3 linked regions of the Homo sapiens genome follow. The protein of the gene in region 2 interacts with the protein of the main gene of each other region in a pairwise test. Each region holds a gene or a part of one and is shown on either strand. Other genes may lie near its edges.

Region 1 (3,750 bases), on a different chromosome or scaffold from region 2:
AAGATAAGTAATAGGATGGCTTACTCGAAACCAAAGCAAACACTGATCAAGCTTATTAAATAATAAAGTTACTAAAATGAAGAAGGAACTGAAGATCTTAAAAAAAAGAAATCACATAACTATATATGATTTCCAGTGATTTTCTGCCACCCTGTGGGGAATTCTGCACATTGCAGAACTGAAGAAGCAAAGTATGAAACTACAAAAACTTCTGTAAATCAAGATGAAATTTCTTGGCCCAAGTAGTTGTTTAGCTAAAGCTCTGTTGATCAGTTTTGTTTTCTCTACTAGCTATTTAGTGAAATTGCTAGACTAGGATAAAAAGAATACCTAATACTTAAATGTGATTACAATATGACAACCAAGGTCCTAATACATATATATGAATTCATCTCACAAAAACCCTATAAGGTAGGTACTATTTTCTTCCCATTTTATCAAAGAGACGGACTTTAATCTACCAATGGTGGGTAAATGTTGCCAAAGCAATGTGAAATCCAGGCAGAATGCTGCATTTTTAGTCAATGATTTAAAATTTTGAGCTTTTCTGTTCCCCTCAGGCCTGATCGTACCCCAATGGAATCACCCAAATACTTGATGCTGAGCCTTTCTATGGATTTATCAGATGAAACTTTGGAAAGGGACTTTTTTTTTTTTTTAAGACAGGGTTTCGCTGTCACCCAGGCTGGAGTGGAGTGGCGCGATCTTGGCTCACTACAACCGCCGCCTGCCAGGCTCCAGAGAGTCTCCCACCTCAGCCTCCCAAGTGGCTGGGACCACAGGTGCATGCCACCAAGCCCACCTAATTTTCTTCTTTTCTTTCTTTCTTCCTTTCTTTCTCTTTGCTTCTTTTTCTTTCTTTCTTTCTCTGTCTCTTTTTTTTTTTTTTTTTTTAAGAGATGGGGTCTCGCCATGTTGCCCTGAGGTCTGGCGATCTACCGACTCGGCCTCTCAAAGTGCTGGGATTACAGTCATGAGCCAGCACGCCCAACTGAGAGAGACTATGATGTTCTCCAAACAAATCTCATTTGGTTGAAACTCTACAGCTGAGTATGGTCTAATTTGAGTAGTTTACCTTGAGTACTCTAACCATGGTCTATAGACCTGGGCTCTTCTGAGAACTGTTTGCAAATGGTTCACAGAGAGAGAGTAGAAAACTCTATGTCAATTTTGCAGGTAATTTTATGGCTGTTAACTCTAACGATAAAAAGTTTTGACTTGGACTTTGTATGTCTTTTCATTTTTCTGTTTTATTAACTTGTCAAAAACTAATTGAAAATTGAAAAAAATAAACCGACCGTTCCCCCAGTGAAGAGAAGCACTGCTGTAAAGCTTTTCACACTCAAATATTACCAAACTCTAAGGTCGCTTCTGAGGCCTAACTCCCCAAAATGATGCCTCGGATATTTTTCCTCGCCTTATTTCTTTTTTTTCTTTTTCTTTTTTTTTTTTTTTCCTTTTTCCTTTTATTTGAGACGGAGTTTTTGCTCTGTTGCCCAAGCTGGAGTGCAATGGCACGATCTCGGCTCACTGCAAACTCCAACTCCGCCTCCGCCTCCGCCCTCGCCTCCTGAGTAGTTGGGATTACAGACGCGCGCCACCACGCCCAGCTAATTTTTGTTTGTTTAGTAGAGACGAGGTGTCACCATGTTGGCCAGGCTGGTCTCGAGCTCTTGACCTCCGGTAATCCACCCGCCTCGCCCTCCCAAAGTGCTGGGATTACAAGCGTAAACCACCGCGCCCGACCTCCTCCCCTTATTTCATCCATTTTATAATTCACATTATTGATCGCTGATAATTGCACCTATTGTAATGATACTGATAATTGCACCTGTTGTAATAATATTGATATTGATAATTGCACCTATTGTATTACAATATTATTATTGATATCGATAATTTCACCTACTGTAATGATCAATAAAGGCAGGCAGAAAGAAAACAAAAGTAACTGAAACTACCAGGCAGCGTCCCTGCGAACAGCAAAGAGGGAAGAAACGCCTTGAGGCGTAGTAACGCCACCAATAAGGAGTCGACGCGACGGGTCCGCCCACAGGCAAGGAAGGCCGACCCCGCGAGTGCAGGCGCGAGCGCTAGCCCGTGACGTCTGAGGGGGTTGGGGGGATGCTGTGTGGGTTTCAAGAAGACGCCACGCCTCCGCCGCCGCCACGCCCCCGCCGCCTCCACCGCCGGCTGCCGCGCCCGGAGGAGGTCGGGATGTTATCACTTCCGCCGGGGCTTCTCACTGTGTCCGGGTCAGCTGCTGCCGCCGACGCCGTACCGCTGCGGCCGGGGGATTGGGCCGGGGTCTCCACCGCCGACCGAGGGGAGCGGGCTCCGCTCGGCCCTGCTTTTTGCGACCTGGCCGTCAGCCCCACGTCGCCGGCCTGGAGGGGCGAAGAGGACGAGGGGGCCAAGGCTTCCTCCGGGGTGAGTGCGGCCTGGGAGAACTCGGCACGGTGGCTCCGGAGCTGGACTGGGAACCGGCCTAGGGGCGAAAGTCTGTCGGGCGCGTGCCCACGACGTCCGGGGAGAGGAAACCCAGAGAGTTACCCTTGGTAGGGGGAGCCATAGAACCTGCTCGGGAGGTGCTTCCTGGATCCCCGCCCTGCTTAGGTCCCCGCCCTTGGCTTGGGTCCTGTTTGTATTTGGCAGTTTGGCCCCCCACCCCGTCGCTTTTCCGTTTCTGGTAGTTGTGCTCGGGATGGAACCTTGCCCCTCCTCCGCTCCCCCACCCTTTTACCCTGGTGTGGGTGAAGTGGCTGGGCTACGATGGTTCAGTATTTATGACCAGCGTCCGTCCTGGTACAGAACAAAGAAACTTGGACTTCTGGTATGCCTCGTAACCGCGGGGAATAGACACGGAAGCAGCATAAGTAATCAGGGCTTTAATAGATCTTCCCTAGTACGCTAAACCAAATACAGAGTGTGTACGTCAAAAGCCGAGTCCCCGCGTGAATCTAGACACAACCCTTTCTGTTTAAATACCTGGCAAAATGGTTTGGATTTCTGGATGCATTTCATGCCGCTGGAGAGTTACTTGTCTGTGTCTTGTGAGCTCTTTGACGAAACAGCTTTTCCGGTGTTGCATCAAGATAGTTACGGTGCCTCCTATTTATTTAATTGAATAAACTATGTGATTGCATTTTAGTGTTGCTTTTTTCATTCTCACCTTCTCTTGATTAGGATCTCTATTTCACCTAATACCTGATTTCGTATTTTCAATTAAATGTAGTTTTTCTAACATTTTATAGGAATCTCTGCAATTGTAGAAACAAATTCTGTAATTTGTAAATGGATGTTTCCTCAAAGTTACAACTGACCTTACCCAATTAAGTTACCCCTGCAGACTAGTTTCTTGATCATTTTGCACATATTCTTAGTTCTTTTTGGTTTACATTTTCTCTAAACTCTATTCCTAGTCTTCATATTCTCTAGTGCAGCCTAATACTGCTGGGCTTAGACCGGAAGTATGACAGATCCACTTCTGCAAACGGAACTTGAACTAGATTATCATAAGTCAGTGCTATTATGGTCTTCAGGCATTACAAGCCCTTTGAAGCTAAGTGCGGCCAAATCAGGCATTACAGGCTTCTTCTGTATAAAATTGCCAGTGCACTGGAGACGGTGTGCTGTATTAGAAACAGTTCCGGACTAGATATGGGGACCAGGATGTAGTGTCATTGCCTCATATATAAGATAAAATGATGATAACACAAGTGTCATGCATCCCAAAGTTGCTGGTTGGAA
Region 2 (3,750 bases):
TTTTCACATATTTGAAAATCTGTGAGATTTCCCAAGATTGGCAAGCACAATGTAGTATGTTCTTCAGCCTCATTCAGCAAAATAGGAGTCTTCAAAAGACAGTCCTGGCCGAGTGTGGTGGCTCACGCCTGTAATCCCAGCACTTTGGGAGGCCGAGGTGGTTGGATCACCTGAGTTCAGGAGTTCGAGACCAGCTTGACCAACACAGTGAAACCCTGTCTCTACTAAAAAACAATACAAAAATTAGTCGGGCTTGGTGGCGCATGCCTGTAATCCCAGCAACTAAGGAGGCTGAGGCAGAAGAATCGCTTGAACCTGGGAGGCGGAGGTTGCAGTGAACTGAGATTGCACCACCGCACTCCAGCCTGGGTAACAAGAGCAAAACTCCATCTCAAAAAAAAAAAAAAAAGTCCTACTTTACGCTTCTTTTAATAAGGCTAAAAAGATATGTGGCCAGTCTCTTAATTAAATGCAGTATGACAGTGCTTCCTTGAATCATATTAATCCATATTGGAAGTAATCTTATGTCTGCTAGTCACATGGTGAAATCTGACATCTCACAAAATCTGGTCCTGAATTTTTATTTGTCTTCTGCATGTCTCCACTGAGTTGTGAGGCCTCACATGTGTCACTGCCAGTGTGTTGTGAGTTTTTTCCACACAGCCTTCAGCTGCTTATTCCATTCCACTGTAATCCTTATATTTAGTTATGATTGTCCTCAAAATTACCTACAAATTTGACTCATCTATTTCATATAGGAAATGCTATATCGCTTAAAAGTTTTAAAAGCCTTTAAAGAAGACTAAGTGCTTAAAGGCTTTGTTATTCTTAAAAGGTTAGCCAGTTTTCAGAAGGAAAACTTCTTCAGACCAGCAAAGTGTTTTTTGTGTGTGTTTGCAGTATAGGTGGGGCGGCGGGGTATCGTATGTTTAGTAAAATCAAAAGCTTTTGAGAGATCAAGTCCTTGATGTAGAAAAGTCAGCCTTCAAAAAACAGTACTGTCCAGGTAGATAATCTTAATTGTGTCAAAGAACACTATGATTAGGGAAACAAAGTGTCTGGTAAACAGCCTCTACAAAGACAGACTTTGTTCTAAGTGAGAGTTAAGGAAGAAAGAATATAAGCTTTTAATTGATATTTGTTTTCCTTCAGCCAGTGGGCTGTTTACTTACAGCAAATACCAAGTGATTGCAGGGGTTGGAAGTGATAGATTAATTTACTCACTACTCACTGTATTAAATTGTATACACCAACCTGGGTTTTTTTGTTTGTTTTTGTATTTGACTAATTGTTTCTGACTTTACAATTTCAGTCTTGGAACTTTGCCTTCCCGGCTTCTTTGGTTTACAGGGTTGAAAAAGAAAGCAAAAGTATCTAACGACCTTTGTAAAACATCTTTTAAGTGAGAACCTTTTTCATAAGGCAGTTGTTTCCTCAGTGGGTAGATGGTTTTTCCTGTAATCTGGCATTGTGTAAGGAAATAAGAAGCAGCTTGTCTTTGATTCTTGGTGTGATGGCATGAAAAGTAAATGTTCTGGTGGGATCCCCAAACGTGTTAGTAGGCCGCTATATTATAGCTGTTGTTTATTAGATTAGTATCATTTGAGGGGCTTTTCTGTAGAAGATTTAATTTGAAGATTTATCTTTCAAATATACTTTGGCTTTTTCACTTTTATTTTTTAGGCTGTGCGTGTTACAAAACCCAAAATCCCAGAAGCCATAAGAAGAAATTTTGAGTTAATGTGAGTAATATGCATGGGATCCCAATATTTCTGTTTAGGGCTGTCTGCATATTAATATTCCAGTCTAGAGGAAACATGTGAGACAATACACTCTGGGGTGGAGTATGTGTCTTATCTTCTTTACTCTTACTCTAGTAATATTGCCTATTCTTGTGTCTTAATTCCCACTAGACTCTTACTAGTGTTCTCTTTATGTATGGACATTTCAGGAGCAGTTTCAGTGGCTAAAGATGCAGTTTGCTGTAAAACTATTGCTGGAAGCTTAAGGAGCTATAATTTTATATGAATAGTACCTTGAATTAAATATTTAATAGAGGAAAGAGTCCTGAAGCCGTTAGGGTTGAAGAGAGTGCTCATATTTTGTTTCTGTGTTGTAATGGTAGGAATAGATACCTTGTTGGTATAAAGTTTGGTTTTCCATTGTATGTGATTGTATATCTAAAATTAGACCTGGTTCTTTATAATGTGCCTCTAGGGAAGCCTTGCTTCTGTTGACTCCTGGTAGTCTTCTCTTTTATGTATCCAGGGCTGACTGGGAATGAGAAGACATGAAATTAGTTTCTGACAGGATCCCTTTTAGGGGAATACTTACTGTGTTTGAAATGGCAATATTGTTTTCGTATGACTGGTACTGAAAAGAAGAAATAAAAGTCTTTAGGAAATTTGGCTGATGTGTTAAAAGGGAAAGTATAAGACGCTGGAAAAATAAATTTGCACAAGTCAAGGATACCACAGATGTATAAATACTGGAAGTCCAAGGAGCAGTAATACTACTTTATGAGGTTGTTTACTTCTGAGTCCTTTTTGTTACCATGCAGATTTTTATTGTTTTTTTCTTCTTTTATATTTTCCTTTTCCCTCATACCTTCTCTGAGCTCATACAGAGTTTTATTTCTCTTTTTCTTAATTTTTTTTTTTTTGAGACAAGGTCTTGCTCTGTTGCCCAGACTGCAGTGCAGTGGCACAATCACGGCTCACTGCAGTCTCAACCTCCCAGGCTCAAGTGATTAAGCGATCCTCCCACCTCAGCCTCCTGAGTAGTTGGGACTACCAGTGCATGCCACCACACCTAGCTAAATTTTGTATTTTTCATAGAGACGGAGTTTTGCCCTGTTGCCCAGCCTGGTCTCAAACTCCTGGGCTCAAGCAGTCCTCCTGCCTTGGCCTCCCAAAGTACTGGGATTACAGGCTTGAGTCACCACACCCAGCCTGTTTTCTCTTTTTCATTGTAGACAAAGAACTCTTCTTTTAAAAGTATAAAATGTAGACTGCCAGGCTGGGTAGATTATGGATGTGATCCACTTATTGAAAAAATATTTATAGGCGGGCTGTGGTGGCTTATGCCTATAATCATAGCACTTCAGGAGGCTGAGGCCGGCGGATCACCTGAGTTCAAGAGTTTGAGACCAGCCTGGCCAACATGGTGAAACCCTGTCTCCAGTAAAAATAGAAAAATTAGCTGGACATGGTGGCAGGCACCTATAATCCCAGCTACTGGGGAGGCTGAGGTAGGAGAGTCGCTTCAACCGGGGAGGTAGAGGTTGCAGTGAGCCGAGACCACGCCATTGCACTCCAACCTGGGCAAAAGAACGAAACTCTGTCTCAAAAAGAAAATTTTATTAAACTGTCAGCATGTCTTAGGCTTTAAATATGATTGCTTAGGCTGGGTGCGGTGGCTCATGCCTGTAATCCCAGCACTTTTGGGAGGCCAAGGTGGGCGGATCACGAGGTCAGGAGATCGAGACCATCCTAGCTAACACAATGAAACCCCGTCTCTACTAAAAATACAAAAAATTAGCCAGGCATGGTGGTGGGCGCCTGTAGTCCCAGCTACTCGGGAGGCTGAGGCAGGAGAATGGCGTGAACTCAGGAGGCGAAGCTTGCAGTGAGTCGAGATAGTGCCACTGCACTCCAGCCTGGGTGACAGAGTGAGACTCCATCTCAAAAAAAAAAAAAAAAAAAGATTGCTTCTGGTGACGGAAAAATGAATATTGTGTGTTTTCTGCTC
Region 3 (3,750 bases), on a different chromosome or scaffold from region 2:
GCTTGTAGCCCCAGCTGCTGGGGAGGCTGAGGTGGGAGGATCGTTTGAGCCACGGAGGTTGAAGCTATAGTGAGCTGTGATTGTGCCACTCTACTTCAACCTGGACAACAGTGACATCCTGTCTCAAAGGAAAGAAAAAGAACAATGGACAAGGGAATTCCTCCCAGATAGCAGAATCAGGGTCTAGTTGGGAAATTCCTCCCACCTCCACCCCAGCATCACTTCAAAACTGCTATAGACCAGTGTCTGCCATGTGTCTCCCTTTTCCAAAAGGGAGATGGTTACAAAAACCATGGTCATATTTAACCACTGCATTTTAGTGGGGAGAGCAACTAGTTTGTCTTCTTAGTCCATAGGGCTCTGGACCACGAGGAACCACAGCCAGGCCTGATGGAGAGAACTGTGCAATCCTGAGAAATGTTCTGTGTTGCACTAGGCACCTTGACAAAGTGTCCCCCTTGGGGTGGGGAGAGTGTGTTCTCCATGTGGGATCAAGAGTGGAGCAGAGATCTGGTCACCAGAAGAGAGACTACGGTAAGTGCTGTTCCTTTTCCACTAAGCCACTTCCCTTTCCTTCTAGACACAGAACTAAACTACACTCCCTAGCTTCCCTTGCAATTAAGTGCAGCCATGTAGTCGTTGAGTGCCTGGCCCATAAATTCCTCCTGCACTGCCTCTCTTCTTTCCCCACCCACTGGCTAAATGCGGAGAATTCAGAGGGCCTAAGGAAAAAAACCACAACATGGAAGAATTTTAGGCTGCAGCTTGCAGAGAGCTGCCCAAAGGAATCGTCTGACTAGAAACCGCTACACAGGACTGTGTGAGCAAGAAACATGCAACTGTTCTATTGGGGTGAATTGCTACAGCACTTAACCTACCTCCACTAATATAAATTGTTTAACATTTTTTTGAATTACAAAAGCAATACAATACAAAACATTTAAACAATGCAGAAATAATAAAGTTTTTTATCCCTACCTCCTCTCCCTGCTGTGCCAACCCTAGGGGATAATCAATGTCACAGGATATCCCCAGGAATATCCATGTACATACATGCACAGAACAAGTCAGGGAAAATAAACTAAATTTATTATTTTAGTGAGATTCTAGTGCACCTAACACTAGGTAAGCACTTCAGGAAAAGGCAGTGACAAGTGATTGCTAAAGATACCATAGTCTTAAAGTTAAGTCAGTAAACACAAGATAGTAATCCCAGATAAACTGGAAGCTGTAGAGTTAATACTCCTTTACTGGTACAGAGCAGTGTGTGTAAATTGTAGAAAATTTAGAAATACATAAAAAGATGAAAACTCTACTACTCGAGGAGTACCACTGATAAAATCCTGTGCATTTCCGTTTTTTTAATGTACATACGAATATTTTTAAAAAGAGAAAATTACTCCCTTCTGATTAGAAAAGATCGAAATTTTTCTCTTTTAGTGATAATCAAGTCAGAAACTTGCTGTTTGGCTCGAGTTAGGAAAACCTAGCCTGGTAGTTACCACGCAGGTTGAAAGGCCAGTGGGGCATAATTAACGAGCCCTCAGGGTCCACGCTCCCGCCCTCGGAGCTCAGAACCGACGGGAGGTGCAGGAGGCCGGGCATTTCTACAGCCCTGGTTCGTTCCTAAACTACTGAATCTTTTAAAGAGATCTGAGTGCTCCTTATACACAGCTGCTTTAATTAAAATAACCACCTGAGCCCTTTTCCTCCGAACTCCACATGCGCTCAGTTCTCAAAGCGCCGATCTCAAGCGGCCGCCCGGATGCTCCGGCCCGACTTGTGCCCCGAATTCCCCTGGAGACCCTCGCACTAGCACGGCGTCAGGAGGAGGCTTCGGGTGACGAGACAGCGGGCAACGGCTCTGGTCCAGAGCGCGCGTGTCCGCCGTTGGAAGCGGTCACGGCGGAACCCTCAAATCGCCCCCTTTCCTAGAGACCTCAGCGGAGCCGCGAGCAACCGCGCAGCCCCCGCGCTCCAGCCCTGCGCCCTAGGCACACGCCCCAGAGCAGCAGCTCGGGTTCGGCGCCGACTCCGCGCCGAGACCAGCCCGCTAGGGGAGGACTCACAGCACCCAGCTCCCAGGAGGGCACGCAGAGGACTACCGAGCCACACTCCGCCCCACGCTCGCCGCTATGGTTACTTGCCAGCCGACCCACGCGAGCCGCTATGGTTACTAGCCCGCCGCCCCTCGCGCCCACGCCCCTTTCGCTATCTCGCGACAGCTGGAGAAGCCTCGCTTCCGGCCGGCTCACTTACGGACCTAGCGTCACTTCCGCCTCCGGCGAGGCTCCGGCCTCGGGTCCGGATGTATAAAGCGCGGCCCCCTGCGGGGAGTGGTGGTGAGTCCGAGGGTGCCACAGCGGCCCTGCCCCTGCCCCTGCCCCTGCCCTGAGTGGGCGCCGCGCTACGGGGGAGGGGTTAACCCACCCCTCCTCCCCGGGGCCTCACGCGGGTGGGAAGGGACAGTCCCAGCGACAGACCAGGCGCCTGGACGCGCCGTGGACCCGCGTGCGGACGGCGGGGACAGGCTCCGGTGCTGAGCGCCTCCGGTGTCCCCAGCAGCACTGACCCACTTGCAGGCCCCGGAGCTGAGCCGCCAGCCATGGCCGCTCCCCGCGGGAGGGCCGCGCCCTGGACGACGGCCCTGCTGCTGCTCCTAGCCTCGCAGGTCCTGTCTCCGGGAAGCTGCGCGGACGAGGAGGAGGTCCCCGAGGAGTGGGTGCTCCTGCACGTCGTCCAGGGCCAGATAGGCGCCGGGAACTACAGCTACCTGCGGCTGAACCACGAGGGCAAGATAGTCCTCAGGATGCGCAGCCTCAAGGGAGATGCGGATCTGTACGTCTCCGCCAGCAGCCTGCACCCCAGCTTCGACGACTACGAGCTGCAATCGGCCACCTGCGGCCCGGACGCCGTGTCCATCCCCGCGCACTTCCGGCGCCCAGTGGGCATCGGCGTCTATGGACACCCCTCCCACCTGGAGAGCGAGTTCGAGATGAAGGTGTACTACGACGGCACGGTCGAGCAGCACCCGTTCGGCGAGGCCGCCTACCCCGCCGACGGCGCAGATGCCGGCCAGAAGCACGCTGGTGCCCCGGAAGACGCCTCGCAAGAGGAGGAATCTGTTCTCTGGACGATATTAATTAGCATTTTGAAACTGGTACTTGAAATTCTCTTTTGAGTCGTTGACCACACTCTGGGATATAAAACCCTCCATCTGTGAAGCTGATTGCAGTTTGCTGTGAACCTTGCTACTTGTACTTGGTTGAAGTTCTAGGTACCTTTAGTCAAGGGATGGAAAAATAAAGCCATACGCAGTTTTGTTACCTCAGTTACCCCAAAAATAGGAAAAGCAGCAAGCACAGTATTTTAAAGATCATAATTCCTATAAAAGGACTGTGCACAAAGTGTTTAGACTCCATTTTCATTAGGCAGGTTGACTAAAAATGATTGCAGTAACAGGTTTATATAAAATAGAGCAACCTTTCATGCTGTGACACAAATCAAAAGGTTGATAACTTTGTAATTTTACTCTGGAGATTCTAACCGAAGTTGGTGTAAGTTTTCAAGAGTTACTAAAATCAAGTTGGAAATGATTTACGTACACTTCCCTGAGCCTGGACTAAAGCCTCATGCCTGTACCCCAAGTAGGTGATGGTACTTTTCTATACAAAAAGGATTTCCTGGCAGGCAGGTATTTACAAAGTTTGTTCCTGTACCAGTCCAATAATGACAACTCTAAATCCAGCT

The links.
Region 1: the proteins of ERLIN1 (region 2) and BNIP2 interact in binary tests that used the Homo sapiens proteins (3 or more experiments, as listed by UniProt).
Region 3: the proteins of ERLIN1 (region 2) and C6orf120 interact in binary tests that used the Homo sapiens proteins (3 or more experiments, as listed by UniProt).

What each region holds. Positions count from the first base shown.
Region 1 is NC_000015.10:59,687,815-59,691,564, reverse strand, and holds the start of BNIP2 (BCL2/adenovirus E1B 19 kDa protein-interacting protein 2), read left to right. Parts: upstream 1-2,244; 5' UTR 2,245-2,430; intron 2,431-2,638; exon of another isoform or gene 2,639-2,833; intron 2,834-3,750.
Region 2 is NC_000010.11:100,165,340-100,169,089, reverse strand, and holds part of ERLIN1 (erlin-1), read left to right. Parts: intron 1-1,683; coding exon 1,684-1,742; intron 1,743-3,750. UniProt on the Homo sapiens protein: Component of the ERLIN1/ERLIN2 complex which mediates the endoplasmic reticulum-associated degradation (ERAD) of inositol 1,4,5-trisphosphate receptors (IP3Rs).
Region 3 is NC_000006.12:169,699,855-169,703,604, forward strand, and holds the start of C6orf120 (UPF0669 protein C6orf120 isoform 1 precursor), read left to right. Parts: upstream 1-2,271; 5' UTR 2,272-2,308; coding exon of another isoform or gene 2,309-2,342; 5' UTR 2,343-2,582; coding exon of another isoform or gene 2,583-2,605; coding exon 2,606-3,181; 3' UTR 3,182-3,750. UniProt on the Homo sapiens protein: May be involved in induction of apoptosis in CD4(+) T-cells, but not CD8(+) T-cells or hepatocytes.